Linked DNA regions of Homo sapiens: regions 1, 3 and 4 are each linked to region 2. The links come from fine-mapping of genetic effects on gene expression. A gene starts in region 2. Each other region holds a variant in brackets. All regions are shown on one strand. Distances are from middle to middle.

Region 1 (5,152 bases), 210 kb before region 2:
GCTGTTGCGGTTTTTGTAGCTCACACCTTGAACCATGTGGCAGCCAGTGAGCATGATCCGATCTTGAACTTCACCATACTGTAGGTTAACTACTTTGTGACAAAGAAACGCCCTGCTAGTGGTGCCTGTGCACCTAGTAGAGATGAGCTGAGTTCTGAGCCATTGGTCAGGATTATATCACAGTTTGCACGAGAAAACAAATGGGTACTGCCAATATAATCAAGGAAAATTCTGCCCATTTTTGGAGCTGAAATTTTAAAAACCTGCATAGGTGAGTAGAATAAAGGGGTTGCAAGAACACACCAACCCTCCCTACAGCAAGTGAAAGGTAGGACGCAACCCACAGTGGACATAACTGGGCTGGCCTGGGCTTCCCTTGATGCTGGGTTGTGATACTGTAAGATTTTAATAAGATAATATATTTAGCTTATTTAAAACAATGCCTGGTACATAGGAAGTGCTCAATAAATGCTGACCTCCTCCTCTTCCTCTTTCTTCTTCCTCCTCTTTTTCTTCCTTTTCTTTTCTCCTCCTCATCACTCCCTTCCTCTTCTTCTTCATCTGGCTTCTCCTTGGAAATCCTCAATGACAGAGATACACTGAGGCAAACCTACCTTCTCTTTATTTCCATTCATTGATGTCCAACCTGTCTTCCCATGAAGGCTTTCAGACAGCCAAAGATAGCTATTAGTACGTCCAGAACCTTCTGTAAAGTCACACATCTACACTTCTCTCTAATCATGTTTTCTCATTCCATGTGATATCCAGATTTTTTTCCATTTGTTTAAAGCCTTTTCATTGCCTATGGGTGATGCCTTAGTTGCACACGATCCTAATGCAGTTAGTTCAGGAAGAAGGAAGTGTGGGCTTTTTTCTTCTCCAACATAGGCATGATTCCAACTCAAACATAGTTTCTTGGATCTCTTTGAAGAGGTAGAGGTTATGAACACGGTATCTACCTAGCTGTTATCACTCATTATACCCACCCCAGACACACATGCACATTCACCCTGCATCTCTGCTCTTTTACTAGGGTTGAGGTATGAGCTTCTGTATGACATAACTCCTCCTTCCCCCATGATGGCTGCTGTGACACTCTGAGAGGGGACCAAATGGGTGCTGGCCATTCTGCGTTTCTTTTAGTGCCACAAAAAACTTCTTCAATACTTGAAGCAGAGTAACAGCTGTGAACTAGCAGAGTGATCCAGAAATCCCCCAAATCCTACATAGCAGCCAGTGATCCCAGGGAGACCTGGCTTGACTTAGCAGGAGGGCTCCACGGCAGAGAGTGAGTGATGCCCATTCTGAACCTGCAGTTTTAAGTCTCTGTTCCCCTGGTGCTTGGGTACTTGATGTTTACAGCTTCTCTCCTGAGCTGCGCCATTCCTCCTGTCTTGCCTCCCTGTTGTGCTCCACCCGTTGCTGATTCCTGCTTGTCTTGCCAACGTCAGCTCTCCCCAAACCTTAAAACACCTATGCTCAACAGTCTGCTTTTCTTTGTATATTTTAGGCTCTAGTACCTGATTCCCCTTCAGGCATTAAGCTCCTTCAATAATAACTAACAATTCTGGAGCAAGAATTGTCAGTGAAAAAAAATTAACATTTACTGAGCATTTACTATTTGCTAGACTAAGTGATTTACATGCAACATATCATCTAAACCTCACAAAGACCCTCTCATATAAGGTAGCTCATGTTATTGGCTATTTGTTATATGTTAATATATGTTACATGTGCTTATATATGTGTGTGTGTGTGTGGGTGTGTGTATATATATATATATATATATATATATATATATATATATATATATATATGTTATATGTTATTGGTTACAAGAAAAGAAAATGGGGGCCAGGCATGGTGGCTCACGCCTGTAATCTGAGCACTTTGAGAGGCCAACGTGGGTGGATTGCTTGAGCCCAGGAGTTCAAGACCATCCTGGCCAACATGATGAAACCCCCATCTCTACAAAAAATACAAAACCTAGCTGGGGGTGGTGGCATGCACCTGTAGTCCCAGCTACTCAGGAGGGCTGATGTGGGAGGATCATTTGAGCCCAGGAGGTGGAGGTTGCAGTGAGCTGAGATCACATCACTGCACTCCAAATCCTGTCTCAAAAAAAAAAAAAAAAAAAAAAGAAAAGAAAAGAAAAGAAAAGAAAAGAAAATGAGGCTTGAGAGGTTAGATATCTTGTACGAGGTCAACCAGCTGGTAGTGGTAGAACTGAGGTGGGTACCCAGTATCTCTGAGTCCAAACTGTAATGCTTCTCCAAACAGGAATCCTCCAGTAATTAACAATAATTCCCTCCCATGGGGCATCTTGGGATTCCAACAGGAAAGAAGAACCACTGTCAGTTATGAAGCAAGGGATTTATTATAAAATTTAGACCTTACATAATTATGGAAGAAGCAGAGAAAGTGAAGGTGCCACTGGAGAGTTGAAAGATCAGAGCAAGAGTAAGTAACAGTTATGCATGTCCTACTGCAGAAGTGAAACTGCAAAGGCAAGCTCATGGGAAGCCCATGAGAAACTGCCTCCACTGCCAATATATGGCGATAGGCCTGGACTCTCAGACCACTGTTGATCAGTGGGGTCAGGTAGGAAGATAGGTAGAATGTAGAGGAGATGACAGCAAGGACAAACTGGAACCTGCCAGCACCTCTGCATCTGTCGTCATGTCTAATCACAATGACTTTCAGAGGTAATCATGCTGCTTCACTTTAATCTTTCAAATCTCATGCACATTTCTTTTTTGACAACTCCAATCAAGAACCATATCGGTGGGGGGAACTCTGGGAAATATACTTCCAGGTTAATCAAGTTGACATATGCAAACCATCCTGCCTTAGTCTGTGTTGTGCTTTCATAAAAGAATACCTGAGACTGAGTAATGTATAAAGATTAGAAATGTATTGGCTTATGGTTCTGGAAGCTGGGAAGTCCCAGATGGAAAGGCTGGCATTTGGCAAGGGTCTTCTTGCTAAGTCATCTCA[T/C]AGTGGAAGGCACAGGGGGCTGGGGACCAGGGACCAAACTCACCCTTTTAGAATGAACTCAATCCTGTAGGTTTGTATTAATCAATTCATGAGGGTGGAGCCCTCATGGCCTAATCACCTCTCACTAGACCTCACCTCTCAACACAGTTGCAATGGAGATTAAGTTACCAGCACATGGTTTTTTGGCAGGCACATTTAAACCTTAAATGTGCAAACTTCTTCCCATGTATTATCCTCAAAAGCAGCAGGGCATGTAATCTACTGGAGATTCCATGCATTATCTATGATTCTTAGGGTACAATAATGCTTACAAAATCTAAGTATTAATTGGTTCACTTGTAATTCAATAACTTAGTATGTGGCTGTTATTCATTTACTTTCTTTTTCCTATTTCAGAAGATCAGAGGAGGGCTTACCATTTTAGTGCTGACCATTAGTTTAAATAAAAAAGAAGTTAATTTTAAAAAATTCATTACAGACAGACAAGATGATAAATTTTTCCAGCATCAATGCATAGATAACAATTAATGCTTGACATAGATTCTATTTAAAACAAAATAATGTTTTAAAAAATTCTTCAGTAGTGGTATGCTAAGGATTCCAGCAAAGCCAAACAGCCTTCAGGCATAGGATGAATCATCTAATTTGTTTGTCAAGGCTCATTCAGCTGGAAAGGGCTGTACTTTCATGCAGGGAGAATTTCTAATGGCAGCTTTCTGGTAGCAGGCATCACACCACCGGAATGATATTAGCAGCTCACCACCAAAACCAGTGGGCAAACTCCTTTACAGCTGATTTATGGGTATATTAGTCAGCTCTGGCTGTCATAACAAAATATCACACACTGGATGGCTTCATAGAAATGTTTTCCCCTTAGTTCCGGAAGCTGAAAGTACAAGACTGGGGTCCCAGCATGATCAGGTTCTGACGAGGTCTCTCTTTCTTGCTTGCATATGGCTGCCTTCTTGCTGTGTCCTCCCATGATGGAAAGAGAGAGGTTGGGGTGGGGAGGAGAGAGTGCATGAGCTCTGGTATCTCTTCCTTTTCTTACCAGTGCACTAATCCCAACCCATCATGAAGACCTACCCTCGTGACCTCATCTAAACTTAATTATCTCCCATACCATCACAATGAGCACTGGAGTTAGAGCTCCTACATCTGAATTTGGTGGTGGGACACAATTCAGTCCATAGCAACAGGCATTTCAGACGGACCTGGAACCTTGAAGTTCTCAGGTTTCCTGCCAGCCTGACTGGACCCACAGTCTTTACACTGAACCCATTCTCTTCTGCCTTGGCTCAACATTCATCTCTTATTGGTTTTAATGTCACCAGGCTAAGAAATTCTCCTTCAGCCAAGAGTCTGATTTTTTTTTTTCAACATGAAAATCCCCATGGATATTTAGAGGGAAAAAAAGCAGCCTTCCATGAGTGTATGGCATAAGGCAGAAGGAGGCAGGTGCCCTGAGATGAGCAGATCTGTCCTCCACCTAGGAACACCATTCAATCACTCATTATACAATTATTTTGAGCATCTTCTCTGTACTAAGCACTGTGCTAGATGATGTGGGTACTATGGAGAATAACATAGATGACTCATATCTTGATGCAATGGACTGAATGTTCATGTCCCCCAAAATTCATATGTTGAAATCCTAATCCCCAATATTATGGTATTAGGAGGAGGGGTCTTTGGGAAGTGACTAGGTCATGAGAGTAGAGCCCTCATGAATGGGATTAGTACCTTATAAAAGACACCCCAGAGACTCTCTTACTCTCCTTCCAACAGGAGAGGATACAGTGAAAAGATGGAAAGTGTGCAACCTGGAAGAGAACCCTTGCCAGAACCTGACCATGACCACTCCAGCACCCTGATCTCAGACTTTTCAGCCTTCACAACTGTGGGAAATAAGTTTCTGCTGTTTATAAGCCACCTAGTCTATGGTACATTTGTTAGAGCTGTGCAAACTGACTAAGACACTGCACAATGCCAATTTCAGATACTCTGTCACATTTTCCAGGCTAATAAATTCTTGTCTGTTACAATTTTGTCTGCCATTGTGACTTTGGAGAAGAGAGTGACATATTTATTTCTCTATATTTTCTCCTTTCACATTCTCTCATCCTCATCCTACTATAGGCCTCTGTGGCTTCAT
Region 2 (5,152 bases):
CTACGGGCAACCGTCCATGTTTGCCCAGCTGAAAACATAACTGCTTCTCCCTCAGCCTCACCACCCTTCCCCTTGGGGAAGACCAACACCCCAATATTGCCTCTAGAAGACTCAGCCGGCCAAATCCTACTTCCCACCTCCATCCCAGAACCCTTTAGCTCCCGCTAAAAGCTACAACCCACCGAAGCGGGCAGATCACCTGAGGTACAAAGTTCGAGACCAGCCTGGCCAACACGATGAAACTCCCGTCTCTACTAAAAATACAAAAATTAGCCGGGCGTGGTTGTGCACGCCTGTAATCCCAGCTACTCGGGAGGCTGACACAGGAGAATCGCCTGAACCCCAGAGGCAGAGGTTGCAGTGAGCCGGGAGATTGCACCACTGCACTCCAACCTGGGTAACAGATAGAGACTCTGTCGGAAAACAAAAAAAAAAAACCTACAACCCAATTTCTCGGCTGTCCTCTCCAACATGTTACACCACCAATATCATGCACACTTTGTCCTAAGCCTCAGTTTCGGATCTCTTGCTCTTTTCCGTGAGCCGAGTTGCATGCCAGCAGCCTAGTGCCACTCTATCAACTGCTGCTGCTGCGGTGCCAAGTTTACGTGGGGGAAATGGATTCTGAAGTTTTCAGCAGTTTCTGCAGCTCCCACCAACTCCGGGGTCGTCCTCCCTGCCCCCTCACTCACCCCAGCCACAGAAAGTCAAGCGTATCGTTAGGGTTGCCCTCTTTAACCCTTCTCTTTTTGGAGTGGCGTTCGCGCCTCTCCTCTTTCTCAGACTCTAGCTGGTCCAAGCACCGGAGCTTTCTGGGAGAGGGCGATGGAGAAGGGGACAGACAGCGGCCGGCCCGGGGGGTGTCCGAACAGGCAGGTTGGTGGGTTAAGGTCTTAATCTTGACTCGAGATCTCTCCCCGGAGTTCACAGAGTAGGCGACGAAGCCGAAGCAGCTGGAGCGCGACCCGGAGGAGTCTGACTTCTCGTTGTCTTCATAATTTTCATTCGTTGCTTTCTTCGTGGACTTGCGGCTGGGGGAGGATCCCCGCTTCCCGCCCCCGAGGGAGTTATAATTATCCACTTTGAGAGCAGCCCCTTCCCACTGAAATGTCCCTAAAGTGGGCGCCCTGCCCCTCGGGCCCCCGTCCGAATCTCAGGGCCTCACGGAGGTGGCCATACCCTGCCGCCGAGGGGTTGGGGGGTCCGGGGGAGGGTGGGGGCGCAGGCCGTAGGGACTGCGCGCTGCTGCTGCCTCCGCCCGGACCGGCTTCTCCACTGACTGCGCCGAGGCCCGGGCTCTCCATTGTTCGGTCACATTGGAAGGCCCCCGGGACCCCGAGGCGGGAGCCGGCCGCCCAAACAACGCTCACCGTTACACGCCGCAATCGAGGCGTCTCAACCATCGCCAGAACCAGGACGATTGCTCCGAAGGCCCCACCACGAGGAAGGCAGCCAGGCGCCCGCGCCAACCAAGCGCCTTGTTTGCGCTCCACAGGGGACCGCACCGCCACTCCATCCACAGCGCAAACAAACCACTGCGAGCCCCAGGGCGCAGGCCGGCCCAACGGCCTCCAGGGGCGGCGCTTCGGCCGCAAGTAGTGAAAAGAAGATCAAAACAACTCACCCCGCCCTTCCCAGAGCCTGGCCAAGGGCGCGCCCCACCAGCGCCAGCCCCGACGGGTCCAAGCCACCAGCGGCGGAAGCACGCGGGAGGAGCACTCATGCCGGATCTCAGGCATGGGCCGGAGAGGCCGCAGCGTAGGGCTGGGACTGGAGGGGCAGGCAGCCGAAAAAAGAGGCTGGGCGGCGCGCCTCGCGGGGTAGCAGGGGCGGCGCGCCTCGCTTGCGTGACACCGGGCCGTCCGGGGGCTTACCTGGTCGCCGAGCAGGCGGGCGGGTAAAGCTAGGCCGCGAGAGCGAGGTTAGGAGAGGAGAGGAGGCCGCAGTACTGCTCACACGCTCCGCTCTTCTCCCACTCTCGACTCTGCAGAGCCGCCAGCAGCCCCGCACCCTTTATCCGCGGCCCGGGGCCGCCCCCGGTGCCCTGATTGGCTCCCAGCGGCCAGGAGCCCGGGCCGATCAGCTGATGCGGTCCCGGGCCCCGCGGCCATTGGGCGAGGAGCCCGGCGGGCGCCGCTGGGGTGGGGGCAAGCGAACTGGGAAAGAAAGAAAGAAAGAGAAAGGGGCGTGGGGGAGGGGCAGGGCGGCGTGGGGGAAGGGAGCGGAGCCGGGAGGGCTGAGGGCAGAGGGGCGAGTTGCCGCCAGGCCGGGAAGCCTCGGCTCGCCGCCCACCCGCCAGCTCGCCAGGTGCCGCCCCACGGCCCCCAACCCGGGGTCCCGAGGCTCCCAGCAAAGCCCGCCCTGGACCTCTGCCCTGCCGCCTTCACGGGGAATAGTTTTACGAGGAGAGCTCCCTGGGGAAATGCGGAACCAGGGAAACCGAATTTAGCCTTTTGTTGCGAGGGAGCCTCCGAGCCCCGCTTCCTGCGGGCAGGGGTTAGCTTGAGAGGGAGCGCGGGGCGCGGGACCCGAGGGAACTTTGGGCGGGCCTGGGCTAGGGCGGGTGCCGCGCGGGCCTGGGGACAGGCCGGGGTTCCCAAGGCCTGGAAGAGCCGCCCGCTCCGGCTCTCTTGGGTCTGGGGAAATAAACAGAACTCTGCCATTTCACATTTGAAATCAACGTGCTGTTTCTCTAATTTTACAGAGAGGATTCTGGAGGGCGGTAGAAACTAAGTCTGGAGACCTGTCTCATACTGCTGGCCAGACCCTAGGCAGGTCTTTCAGGGCCCAAGTTTCCTCATCTGCAAAATAAAGTGGTCATCGAAAATGACCTGTGGAGCCGCCCACTAGATTTGAAATTCTGTGTGCAAACTGCCCCCGGAGCAGCTGAAAGGAAATCGAGGTGTTCACTTGCCCCCTTTGAAGTCCAGGGATTGTCAAGAAATTCCTTTAACGAATTCTCCCTGATTTTGCTTTATCAAGTGCGGCTTCTTGTTAATCTGGAAAATGGGAATACATACCTCTCCTCTCAGCTTGCCGTGATGGTTGGGAAAATGTGTATGTGAACACAATATTGAAATGTACCTAGAGACACAACATAGGTAGGTAGGTAGGTAGGTAGGTAGATACTGCTATCCGTACTATTACTCGATCATTCTATTTTTAGTGCCTGAAATCTACCTGATGGTGTCCAGATTTTATTGCTTCTTTCAGTTTAAAGAGCAAGAATTTATGCTTCCAGTGCCTTTGGAAGAGGAAGGGAAGAAGTTTGTTCTGGTTATGTTTTGTACCGCAAATGTGGAAAAGAAATGTTGCCTGCAACCACACACACATAACTTGGCTTCTTTGGTCAACATCCCTTTCCTTTAAGAGTGTATAACACTGTAGTGCTTTTACATGACAGATGCAGCATTCATCTCAAACAGGGTTTTTTGGGATGTTTCAGACTGGTGACATTTTGGATTGGGTAAGGTGCCTTACAAATTCCTTGTTAAATTTCAGTGCTGCCCCTTGAAGCATTACATTGTGGTGGCTAAAGGCACGGCTGCAAGTCAGGTAAACCTAGGTTCAAATCTGGGCTTTCCCTTCATACCAGCTTTGTGTTGGCCAAATCACTTAGCCACATGAAGCCTGTTTCTTTGTCTATAATAAAAGAGGGATAATCATTTTTACCTCATAAAAGGATTAATTGTGATAGCACATGCAGAAGAGATTGAGTAGTCCTTGGTGCATCGTAAATGTTTAGAAAACAGCAATTATAATTATCATAGGCCAAGTTCTATAATCTGAGGTGATTGGATTCTTTCTTTCCCCATAGCGACTTTTGAATACAACTTTTCTGACTCAGTGTAATGCTTTACCATTCATTATATCAAACTGGACTTAACCTTGGTAACACAGTGAGCTGTCTTCATCTCTTTCTGTAAAGGTTTGAGTTTAAATGGTCGAGGAAGGGGAGCAAAGGAGGAGAAAAGTGATATTTTTATTTTAAAAGATGTTATTAATCATTTCCAGATACCAAACTACCGAACCATAAGCCAGAGCCTCTGCTGCACACACCACCAGCCCCTGAGGTGGGGATGACAAACATAACAGAGAACGGAATGGTAAGGCGTGAGTGCGGTTCTGCAGGCTTATGGTATTTCTGCCATTTGAGTGCCTGCTTCCCTTCCTAGATGTCTTGACCTCATTGAGCAGTTTATTCATTGTCATATCCCCCAGTAGTGTCCACGGTGAGTGTTCAATAAATGATATTTGTTAACCACACAGAAGTGACAGCAGCACCATCAAGAGAACATGTGCTTTGAGCTGCTTTTCCAAGAATGGAAATGGATTTGCTTTGATCCATTCATGTGACCAGGGGCACGCTTTGTAAGGGTTAGGAACATAATACATGACCACTGACTCTTTCAGGAGTGAACAAGAGGCCTTGTCCTCCTTGGCCAGCCCCACATTTACTTAAAATGATGAAATTAGGGCGCAGATGAGTCCAAGAACTGACCAGGGAGGCTTGAGCATAGGCGAGAAGTAAAAGCAGAAGAAAACCCTTAACTGGTTCACCCGCAGAAACCCAGACTGTACTTTTAGAGAAGTTAAAAGTAAAACAGCCTGTTTCATCCAGTTTGACTTTGCTGTGTCTGCTGCCCTTTCTTCTCCTTCCCCTTCTTCCCTAAATTGCCACCCGCCCCCATTCTTCACCCCCACCATAAAAAGAGCATTAGAATGCTTGAACCCATGAACTTTTCTGTTTCTTGGTACACACCATATCAGTGCTGACAAGGGGTTCCATTGCATGTGCTTTGAAGTCATATTTTTCTCTCTTAGAGTAGAATTGCCATGTCCAAGGGGTGGGTGGAGTGGGAGAGCAATTACAGGGAAAGATTTTGTTCCAAATCTGCAGAAATAGCCTGAGATTAAAAGTATTTCTTCAATGTTGTTCTGCTGCCTGAAATAAAAGCTTTGTATTAGGATTTTGCTCTACTCCCAAATCTTATCTCTATTAGGAAACAACTTTTCTCTTTTTTTTTTTTTTTTTTTTTTTTTTTTTTGAGACGGAGTCTTACTCTGTTGCTCAGGCTGGATGCAGTGGCGCAATCTCGGCTCACTGCAACCTCCACTCACTGTAACCTCTGCCTCCCGGGTTCAAGCAATT
Region 3 (5,152 bases), 260 kb before region 2:
CATTTAGATAATCTTTGACTACAGGAAGAAAAAAAGAGAAGTCGATCAGTTGACCTTCTCTGATATCTAATCTCCAATAACAGCCACAATAAAATACAGTCACGACAATCCCCACGTATGCCATGGGACCATATTTTCTGACTCATTAGGGGAGGAAAAGGGAAAATTTTACTTTTCGATGTAAGCAGAAGCTAGGGATAAGCTCAAAATATGTAGGAATCCTTGTCCATTTGAGACCCAGCAGTCTTCCTAAGTTTAAAACTCAGAAAGTTATCATATGCCTCTTTTGGGTAAAGATAATTCCTCCCACTATACCATCTCCATACACTCGTTTCTACTATCATCCGACCCATATAAACTAGACAGGAAGCTCTGAGTGTCTGCCATAGACCTCTGCAAGCAAAGCGACCCCAAGCATTTCTTTCTGCCTGAATAATTACGGTTCAGTTCATCTGTGATGAGAGATATCAGCCCTGCCACAGCTAATTACTATAGGAATTGGCCTTCAGTCAAACGCAATCAAGTATGGATTAACTATGATGCAGAGCACTACTCAATGTGCTGTGTTGGGGAAAAACTCTATCTAGTGGTGGTCCTTCACACTGGATAGCAACAATGCAATCACATCCTCTCTTGGGAAATGTAAAAGATACTACAGAAAAGGAGGGTCACAGGAGTCTCTGCAGTAACCTGAATCATGTCAAAGTATTTTATTGCTCCCCAGTCCAGTCTAGGCCTAATGTGCATTCCATTTTGAAAGCCTTGGACCAGAATGTGGAACACAGAATGGTTGCAAAACTGCTGAGCACTTGACCCATTCCCTTACTTCCCTGTAAATTCCAACAATAAAGCTCCAACACTTAGCATAAGCTGGGTGTGTCTCTTTTTTTCTTTTCTTTTCTTTCTTTTTTTTTTGGAGACAGAGTTTTGCTCTTGTTGCCCAGGCTGGAGTGCAATGGCACAATCTCGGCCAACAGCAACCTCTGCCTCCTGGGTTCAAGCGATTCTTCTGCCTCAGCTTCCCAAGTAGCTGGGATTACAAGCATATACTACCAAACACGGCTAACTTTTTGTATTTAGTAGAGACGGGGTTTTGCCATGTTGGTCAAGCTGGTCTCAAACTCCTGACCTCAGGTGATCCACCGCCCTCAGGCTCCCAAAGTGCTGGTATTACAGGCATGAGCCACTGCCCCCGACCGTGTCTCTTTCTTGTAGCCTGAAACAGCAAGAGCCTGACTAATATACTATATGTTGAAAACTTCAGAGCATTTAAAGATTTCAAAAATATTTGACGTGTCATTTGAAGACTATAAAGTATTATGATAACTCCACCCTGAAAAATTCTTCCAAAAATTTAAACCTCATCTAAAGCAATTAGACATTTGGAAAATCAAGTAAATCATGAGAAACATACAAATATCAATATATAGACATCTAGAAAACACAATATTTGTAAGTAAAACTATTTGTTGTTTCAGCAATAGGAGGAATGAGCAAAGGCTACCTTAAGGAAACACAAGCACGTGGCATGGGCCCAATATTTCCTTTGAAATGTATGCCATGCCTGTAACTCCCTTTCTACTTGTACTGGGATGCCTAATTCAGACCCTTGGTGCTTTATAGATGTGTCTTGCAATAGAGATGTAATGACTGGTTCCCATGATTCTGGTCTATGTGTCCTTCAATTTGTCCTGCATGCCAGAACAACTACATTAATGCCACTTCTTTGCTTAAAATGTCTCTGTGGCTTCTATTTATGATCCTCTTTCTGGGTTGCCAGGAACTATATCATCCAGCCTTATTCCTTTGTACTCCACACCTAATTCTATTCCAGCTTAGCCATCTCATCATGAAAATGCTCTGCTCATTCCCATGGCTCTGCCCTCACTCCTCATATTTCTTTCTCTTGGCATAAGGACCCCCTTCATCAGCTCTATCCTACTCTATCTAAAGGCTGGCTTATGTCCCACCTCCCACCTGAAGCCTTCCCTGATCTATAGAGAAAAAAGTAGATTAGTTGTTGTCAGAGGCTGAGGCATAAGGCAGGTGATATGGTTTGGCTGTGTCCCCACCCAAATCTCATCCTGAATTGTATTTCACATAATCCCCATGTGTTTCGGGAGGGGTCCAGTGGAGATAATTGAATCATGGGGGCAGTCTCCCTCATCCTGTTCTAATGATAATGAGTTAGTTCTCATGAGGTCTGATGGTTTTGTAAGGGGCTTCCCCCTTCTCTGGGCACTCATTCTTCTCCTTCCTGCCGCTATGTGAAGAAGGACATGTTTGCTTTCGCTTCCACCACGATTGTAAGTTTCCTGAGGCCTCCCCAGCCCTGTGGAATTGTGAGTTAATTAAACCTCTTTCCTTTATAAATTACCCAGTCTTGGGTATGTCCTTATAGCCATGGGAGAACAGACTAATACAGTGGGGAAATGGCTATGACTGCTAATGG[G/T]TATGGGGTTTCTTTTTTGGGGAGATGAAAATGGTCTGGGATTTGACAGTGGTGATGGATGCATGATTTTTATCAATATACTAAAAGCCATGAAGCCTTCCCATCTCCCACATGAAGCCCTCCCTTGTCACCCACACCCCTCACTCACCTGCACTCCTCTAGGAACTTCACAGAGCTTATTATTTTAGCTCACAAATCAACCCTTATAGAGTTACTGCTTCTCTGTATGGGCCAGATTTAGTTGCTAAGCTAGATAATATACACCTTGACTTTGAGTATGAGGAAACTGTTTTCTTGTTGACATTGAATAAATATCCTAAATTTTACCCACAATCCCTAGAGGCAGCTTCAGAAAGCAAGATTTATTAGGAATCTCTTTTTGCCAACAGGGAAATGAAAAACGTGTATATTGCAATCTCCTGTAGTCAGTGTTCAGCCTGAAAAACAAAAACTGGTGAGCAGGTAGTTCTTACCACCAGAGGACTGTTAATACTGTTGCTATTAACTATAAATATGATTTGTAATAAAAGCCCACATGAGACATAGTGCCATTAGGAAACAAGAATTCCCAGAGGCCACACATTAGGAATCAGGCTGTGTGATATAAAAAACACTGAACTGGAGTCAGGTAGTCTGGGATCTCCTGGACCTGCAACTCCATCGCTGTATGACTTTGGTCAAGTCCGTTAATTTCTCTAAACCCTACTTCCCAATTTGGAAACAGAGCACATCAAACTAGTGACCTCTGAGGTTTGTTCTAGCATTAAAATTCTGGTGACTGTTGCTATGCCTGGGATAATTTCTCACTAAGTTAGAAGGAAACATTGGGATATCTTACAAAATGACTTGGCCTATTATCTATTTCAGAATGCTGCTGACCTTCTGTTCTCGGTTATTGGTATCCTATCTGGCTAAAGAAGCTCCTTCCTTGGTAACCCAGGGGGAGACCCAACTTTAGCCCCACCGTTGGCCTTGGGGCCAAACTACTGCCTAGCCTCTGCAAAACTTGCCAGTTGGCTTTTAAGATTTTCTTACACATATGCTTATTTATTTTCAGTTGGTTAACCTTGAAGTTGAGGCCAATTTTGTTTTGTGACTTTTGTTCCAAGCTGTCTGTTGAACAGTTTAAGTCTCTTGGAGCCTTTTATTTAGCTGAACCTGGATTGTTCTGTTCTGGGAACTGCACCCCCCTGACTCCCCACCGTGGTGCCCTGGATAATTTAGGCTGCAACCTCTCCTCCTTCCTCTAGTGACATTGCAGAGCACCTCTGCGAACTATGATGCACACACCTTGTTTTATGAGATTTCAGTTCCACAAGGAGAATAACAGAGAATGGAGTAGCTGAATGACTGGACTTGAATTCAGTGCAGATTTTGTGACATTCAGGACATTTTTTCTCCTTTTTTGTTAGCAGCCCCCAGAGCTATCTAACCACAGGAGCTTGAATGACACACCTACCTCTCAAGATTATAGAGTCTGCCTCAAAAGCCACCACTATGCCAGCTTCCTGTGTGGGTCTATAGACCCCTTGGGAGATCTACATGATAGTGCCTGAACGGAGACTGAGCATTAGAATGCATCTTAATTTCAAGCACATCAGCTCCACTGCCAATATGGATTCAGTGATCCAAAGTGTTTAAATCCAAGTCTGGGGTGCAAGTTGATGCTCTTAAGTGGCTGTTGTGGACCTGGGGTTCCTGTGACAGTAAACTTGGGCTTGAGAAAGGATCCAAAGAGTGCCTGGGCCTCAAGAAGACACTACCAAGGAATGAATGGCCCTCACTGAACTCCTGTGACATAATAAGATATCTTCACCATTGAATAAGGGATTTTCCTTGAAAATATTATGCTAATTGAAAGAAACCAAATTGTAGAAGGTCACATATTATATGATTTCATTTATATGAAATGTCCAGAATAGGCAAATCTATAGAGACAGAAAGTAGATTCATTCTTATCAGAGGCTGAGGGGTAAGGTGGGGAAATGGCTTTGACTGCTAGTGGGTGTAAGGTTTCTTTTGTGGGGAGATGAAAATGTTCTAGAATTTGAGATTGGTGATGGATGCATGATTTTATCAATGTACTAAAAGCCATTGACTTGCACACATTAAATTAGTAAATGGTATGGTACATAAATTACAACTCAATAAAGCTGTTTAAAAAAAATACGGCATTCTGTCTACTAAAATAAAACAAAAGAAATAAGTAAAACCAGACTTTCACAGTCAACAAGTCTGTCATCAGATAATGCTGATTAATAGTAAAACTGTAATACACTCTCCCTCTGAAGTTGGAGTGGGCTCTGCTGAAAATAGAAATCTCAGGCATATGAAGAGGTTGGTGTCAGTCTGTTCTTCGTGGAATACATTTAATGAGAATCTTTTGCTTCTTTCTCTAAAGAAAGTAGAACTGAAAGAGGAGGGTGTCAGTTTCTTAGCAGCTTGCAAAGCCCAAATCAATATAAAAAGAGCTTCCATTTCTCAAGTATCTTCTAGGTATTCAGTGAATACCCAGGGTTAAGGCTATTTACATGCATACTTGCTAATCCTCACCACAACGCTGCAAGGTAGATATTCCTATCTCTGTTTCACTTAGGAGAGAAATTATGTTCCCAAAGTTGCAGAGCAAGTAAATAGCAGAACCAAGATTAGACCCAGATCAGTCTAACTCCAAGGCCTTTGTCCTCAGTATCTCTCAAC
Region 4 (5,152 bases), 220 kb before region 2:
TGGTTGTCCTTTTCTCATCTTGTACAGTAGCAGATGTTTACCATAACAGATGTTATACTAAATGTTTTTGAGTGGATTTCATCGGAGGGTTGTGGAATCTGCTCCAATCTTTCAATTTAGCTTACCAGTCCCAATGCCTGCTCCTCTTGAGGGTTCTGCTAAGGGGGTGGAAGGCGCCAAAGGAAGGGAAGGTGGCTGAACTACCAAGCATTTTTCTGGGTAGCATGTGGCACAGACTCCCTAAGAGAAATATCAGAGTCCATGGGTTTATGTAGTAGATGACTAAAAGCATTTCTCTCCAGTTGCCTAAATAAACAACATACTTGCCACTTCCCAATAGAAAGAGATTTGGAGATAGTAGAATGATATTCCAATTAAATATTTCAGTAGCTTTCAGATTATTTTGATTGCAACCCACATTAAGAAATAGTTTTACATCATGACATAATATGTGCATTCATATTGACGCATTTATATAACAGAAGAAACAATTGAAGTTTTGTGATACAATACTTGTCCCTATTACATGAAGGCCACGCTAAGATTTTAGGCCACTCCTTTCCACAGTTCTGATCTGATCTACTTTATTTCACCTTTTTTTTTTTTGAAATGAAGTCACACTCTGTCGCCCAGGCTGGAGCGCCGTGGCGCAATCTTGGGTCACTGAAACCTCTGCCTCCCGGGTTCAAGCAATATTCCTGCCTCAGCCTCCTGAATAGCTGGGATTATTGCTGGTTGTAATCTATTACATTTATTTTAGGACTCACGAATAGGTCTAGATCTGCAGTTTGAAAAATACTGAACTGTGTCTGATGCTGTCACCACCGGGTTAAGATGAAACTGCTTGCTCCAGAGGACTAACGACAGGTGAGACTCCTATGCAAGTGAGAGAGTTGATTGGGTAGGTCGATTTCTCTTCAGTCTCAGAGGGGAAAAAGCCTGATGTGGTAGCACAGAAATGGATTGCAAAACGAGTGCGTGTGAGCCACGGGTCTACAGGCAAGGCTCAGCAGGAGAGCCCAGGATCACGTGTCTGCACTTCAGCAGGAACACTGAATATGGACCGTCAGCAAAGTCCACCCTTCTTGGATATCACTGCAAAATTATAAAATCAAAGCTAATTTGGGAAATCGGGGAAAAGGCAAAAACAGGAAACTCTGTGGTCTTGCTAAAGAGTTCAGTAATGAGAGGAGTCCATAGACTATGCTAGTTTTTCAGAGAGAATTTAAAGTCAGGAAATCTTTGAACACACGTGGTGTCACCTGTACTTTTTGGAGCCTTCTGCACCCACTTAACCATGCTTCTAACTCTGTCTTTCTTGCTGTGTTGTCTAGGGATCTGGGAAACAGAATGTTCGCACCTCTTGCCTGATTTCTCTGTTGATTTTTTTTCTGTGCATGTCAGAGAGGTCTGGAGGAAGTTAGCCACCTGGGGAATGTGTGCTTACTGGCTATTCATAGTCAAACCCAGAATGGGAATTGACATTCATTGAAATCATGAATGTCATGAGGAAGCACATATAATGTAGAGACAAGTACCAGGCACCATAAATACACGTTATTTTTGGCAGATTATGTTCAAATTATTATATTTTCCAGGGCTGAGACACCAAACTAAGTCTGGGTGTGGTGGTTTATGCCTGGAATCCCAGGGCTATGGGAGACCAAGGTGGAGGGATTGCTTGAGGCCAGGAGTTTGAGACCAACCTGAGCAGCATGCCAAGACCTCATCTGTACCAAAAAAATAAAAAATAAAAATAAATAGCTGGTCATGGTGGCGTGTGTCTGTATTCCCAGCTACAGGAGGCTGAGGTGGGAGGATTGTTTGAGCTAGGGAAGTAGAGGCTGCAGTGAGTCACGAGCATACCACCGCACTCCAGCCTGGGTGACAGAGTGAGACCCTGTCTCCAAAAGAAAAAAAAAAAAAGAAAAAAAAAACTAATAATTCACATTCAAAACAAAATGATACCTGTCTATGGCAGCTCCAGAACACTCCCTAATGTGCCATAGATGTTTAAGAAACTCATTCCACACACTTCCTTTAAGGCATTCTCAGGTTTCCTAAGGCAAGCTAGCTTCTACCTCCCTTTTCTAAAGATGTGCCTAATGATCTAAAAGGAGGTGGGCCCCTCTATGCTACCTCATACAGGTACTTGGGCAATAACAAGATTGTGGTTTCCAGAATAAATAATGGGCACTGCCACCATCGGAGTCCATAGGATGCTGTATGAGTGCCAAACAGTTCAGGCTGGCATCTCTGTTAGTTTCAAATGATAAAATGCTAGGCTATAACAATGTTTAAAGATTATCTCTTCCAATTCCTTCAATACATTGTCCCAAGTCACCTGGGACACCGTGAATGGCCTTCCTTCCCAAGCTCATCTCCTCCAAACATATCCAGCTCCTCTTTTCCATTTTATCTATTACGATAAACAGAGTGTCGTTACCACAGAGTTCAGCAATTCATTTCCCTCTGTTTTTTCCATGTGTCTATTATTCTATGTTTCCATATAGATGGCAGCATCCCCCTTTGGCCTTCCCCTCCTTCTCTGGCATGTATTCTAACTGCTTGTCGACGGGTGCCAGGAAGTCTCAACCTTATGTAGTCTTTCAGACAGAAGGAGAACCTAGCTGACAGCATTGTCTCCTAATTTTCTCGTAAGA[C/G]GAAGTACAGCTAGAAAGGAGAAGCATAAGTTTCAGAAGAGGAATCTGACCACGTGGAGGAGACTTTGCTGTATTTTCTAAGAAATCTTTGTGATTAACCAAATATGTTGGTTATGACACTTTCAGCTGCCTGAAACAGAAAACTCCCACTCACACAGCTTGAAAAATGCAAACAAATGTATTGTCTCACATACTTAAAGTCCAGAGATGGCTTGGGTTTCAGGAAAGATACGGTTCAGTGCTATTCAGTAATGTCATCAGGGACAGAGGTTATTTCTGTCCTTCCAGTCTGCTGTCCTCAGCATGGGTTCATTCAACAAGATGGCGGCCACTGGATATCAGCTGGCCACACACTTCCTGTTCATATCCAGTAGGAAAGAATGAATGGAAGTAACCTCTGCCCAAAGGCCCCTCCTTTAGTCTGATTGGGCCAAATTAAGTAATACATTCATCATTGGCCTAATAACAGTTGCCAGAAGGATGTCATGTGCTAACTGGTATAGATCAAGGCTTTTCAATAGCAGTAACACTGACATTTTGGACTGGATTCTTCCTGTTGTGGGGGCTGTTCTGTGTACTATAGAATGTTTAGCAGCATCCCTAGGCTTTATAGTCCCTCAGCACCACCTGTCATGAGAATTAAAAATGTCTCCTGACATTGCCAAATGTCCCCTGGAAGACAGGAAAAATCACCCCAGGGCTGAGAACCACTGGTATAGACTAATCAGGTTACTTATGGCCTCTGCACCTTAGTTTTCTAAGATAGTCATCCTATCCATGTGTAAAATGGGACTCATACTAGTAGCTCTCTCATATGACCATTATGAGAATTAAATGAGTAAGTTTATGTAAACACACAGAATATAGTAAGCAATACGTAAATGATAACTATTACTTTCGTCCACTACTCAGTGTATGAAACATGATGTGCTCAAATATTTTCTGAATAATTCAGTGGAAAAGTCACTTGGATCCATGTAACAGTGATGTAGTTCAGAAAAATGGTATTCTACAACGCTACTACTGCTGAACATTTCTGAAGTTGGGATTATATTCTGAATTTATGAGGCACGTCATTTCTTCATTTGAGAATGTCACTGGAATATAAGGCCTTATTACATGTATAAGGGTAAAACCTGGTGCCATTTGGAATTTAAATGGCCACTATGAAATGAAAAGGGTGAGCTAGTGGGAATCAGGGACCTTAGATGGACTCGCTGGTTTATTCATCCAGAACATAGACCAAGTCTGTTCAGCCTTGCATCCTGGAAGCCAAAACTGAGAGCATTTCCTTAGCTGAAGGTTGTAGAGTTGGAAGTGCAATCTGAAGTCCAATGAATAAAGGTGCTGAGAGGAGTATCTTGATAACATAATTTAAAAGTGTATGCATTTTTCCACTTTGTTACTGTTGATAATAATGTTTCAATTTGAAGGGTGCACCATATGGTTTTAAAAATCACTTTCACATGCCTCTCTGGAAGTTTCGTTGGATGAAAGGGAGAGTGAATATTTGCAAGTATATGGCAAACCAAACTCTCGTATCTCTGAATTTACAAATAAATTTTAAAAGGTGGAATTCAGTTGGAGAATTGCCCATAGGGGCTACCCTGACCAAACTCATGAGTGTTAAACCATTGAGTTTTTAGAGTTCATTTTTGCTGTAGCAAAGCTTCTCCTATTCTAAATAATATCTCAAACCAGAGATTCTGAAGCATATTTTTAAAAAAGAATTTGATATTTGGGTTTTTTTAAAGGATTAAACTATTCTTAATGGGCAAAATGAGAACTTTATTGGACTTAACCTTATTTTGTAATTTAGTACTTTGAAATAGCATATGGGGAAATACCATAATAATTTCTATGCTTGGGGCTTATGAAGGTCTTGCAGTAGCTCTGCTTACCAGAGCACTGAGGATTCACAGCTTCAGAGTAAAGACAAACAGCTCATTGTTGTTTCTACAGGGTCTTTCAGCCCTTTCTCAAATATTCTTTCCATCCCTGTAGCTTTCTACTTTTGTTTGGGGATTCCCTTTTCTTTGAATGTTTGCCCTAACTTCTCCTTCAAGTTCAGGTCAATTTAACTTCTTCCAAAAAGACTTCCTAGATTCTCCAAGGAGTGATAGATTTTATTCCTCTACATGTATTATTTCATAATACCTATTACATTTATAACTGACCCTTCCCATGCCACCCCTCAGTACAAATTGTGATGGATTTGGATGAATTCCAAATTGAGTGAATAAACCAGTGAGTCCATCTAAGGCCCCTGATTCCCACTAGCTCACCCTTCTCATTTCATAGTGGCCATTTAAATTCCAAATGGCACCAGTTTTTACCCGTATACATATAATACATACACATGCATATGCTAAATTGTAGCTTTTAGAAAATAGATACTATTTCTTACTCACTGTTGCCCTCACCATAACATGTGCTCAGAATGCAGAAAAAGTTCAATGCATTTCTGAATTTTAGTAAAACCATCTTTT

Direction of the effects. Positions count from the first base shown, and alleles are read on the strand shown. Sizes are in standard deviations (SD) of each study's normalised expression. Not every link is listed here.
As copies of T replace C in region 1, the expression in macrophages of the gene that starts at base 1,986 in region 2 goes down (moderate effect, 0.71 SD a copy in Nedelec 2016).
In carriers of allele C in region 4, the expression in monocytes after Pam3CSK4 of the gene that starts at base 1,986 in region 2 tends to be lower than with G alone (large effect, 0.92 SD a copy in Quach 2016).

The links. PIP is the estimated chance that this variant, and not a neighbour inherited with it, causes the effect.
Region 1: its variant is the best candidate, but not a certain one, in a credible set for the expression of GLUL in macrophages (Nedelec 2016, PIP 0.53).
Region 3: its variant is the best candidate, but not a certain one, in a credible set for the expression of GLUL in whole blood (TOPMed, PIP 0.61).
Region 4: its variant is the best candidate, but not a certain one, in a credible set for the expression of GLUL in monocytes after Pam3CSK4 (Quach 2016, PIP 0.84).

The regions. Positions count from the first base shown.
Region 1 is chr1:182,182,858-182,188,009 of GRCh38, forward strand. It overlaps the pseudogene YPEL5P1. Among named protein-coding and RNA genes, the nearest start is that of ZNF648, 120 kb to the left of the region's middle. The variant T/C (reference allele first, on the strand shown) is at 2,998.
Region 2 is chr1:182,389,805-182,394,956 of GRCh38, forward strand. GLUL (glutamate-ammonia ligase) reads right to left here and starts at 1,986. Exons shown (of 7, transcript NM_001033044.4): 1 at 1,875-1,986. RefSeq lists a silencer at 1,722-2,401.
Region 3 is chr1:182,132,200-182,137,351 of GRCh38, forward strand. No RefSeq gene overlaps it. Among named protein-coding and RNA genes, the nearest start is that of ZNF648, 73 kb to the left of the region's middle. The variant G/T (reference allele first, on the strand shown) is at 2,453.
Region 4 is chr1:182,168,387-182,173,538 of GRCh38, forward strand. No RefSeq gene overlaps it. Among named protein-coding and RNA genes, the nearest start is that of ZNF648, 110 kb to the left of the region's middle. The variant C/G (reference allele first, on the strand shown) is at 2,664.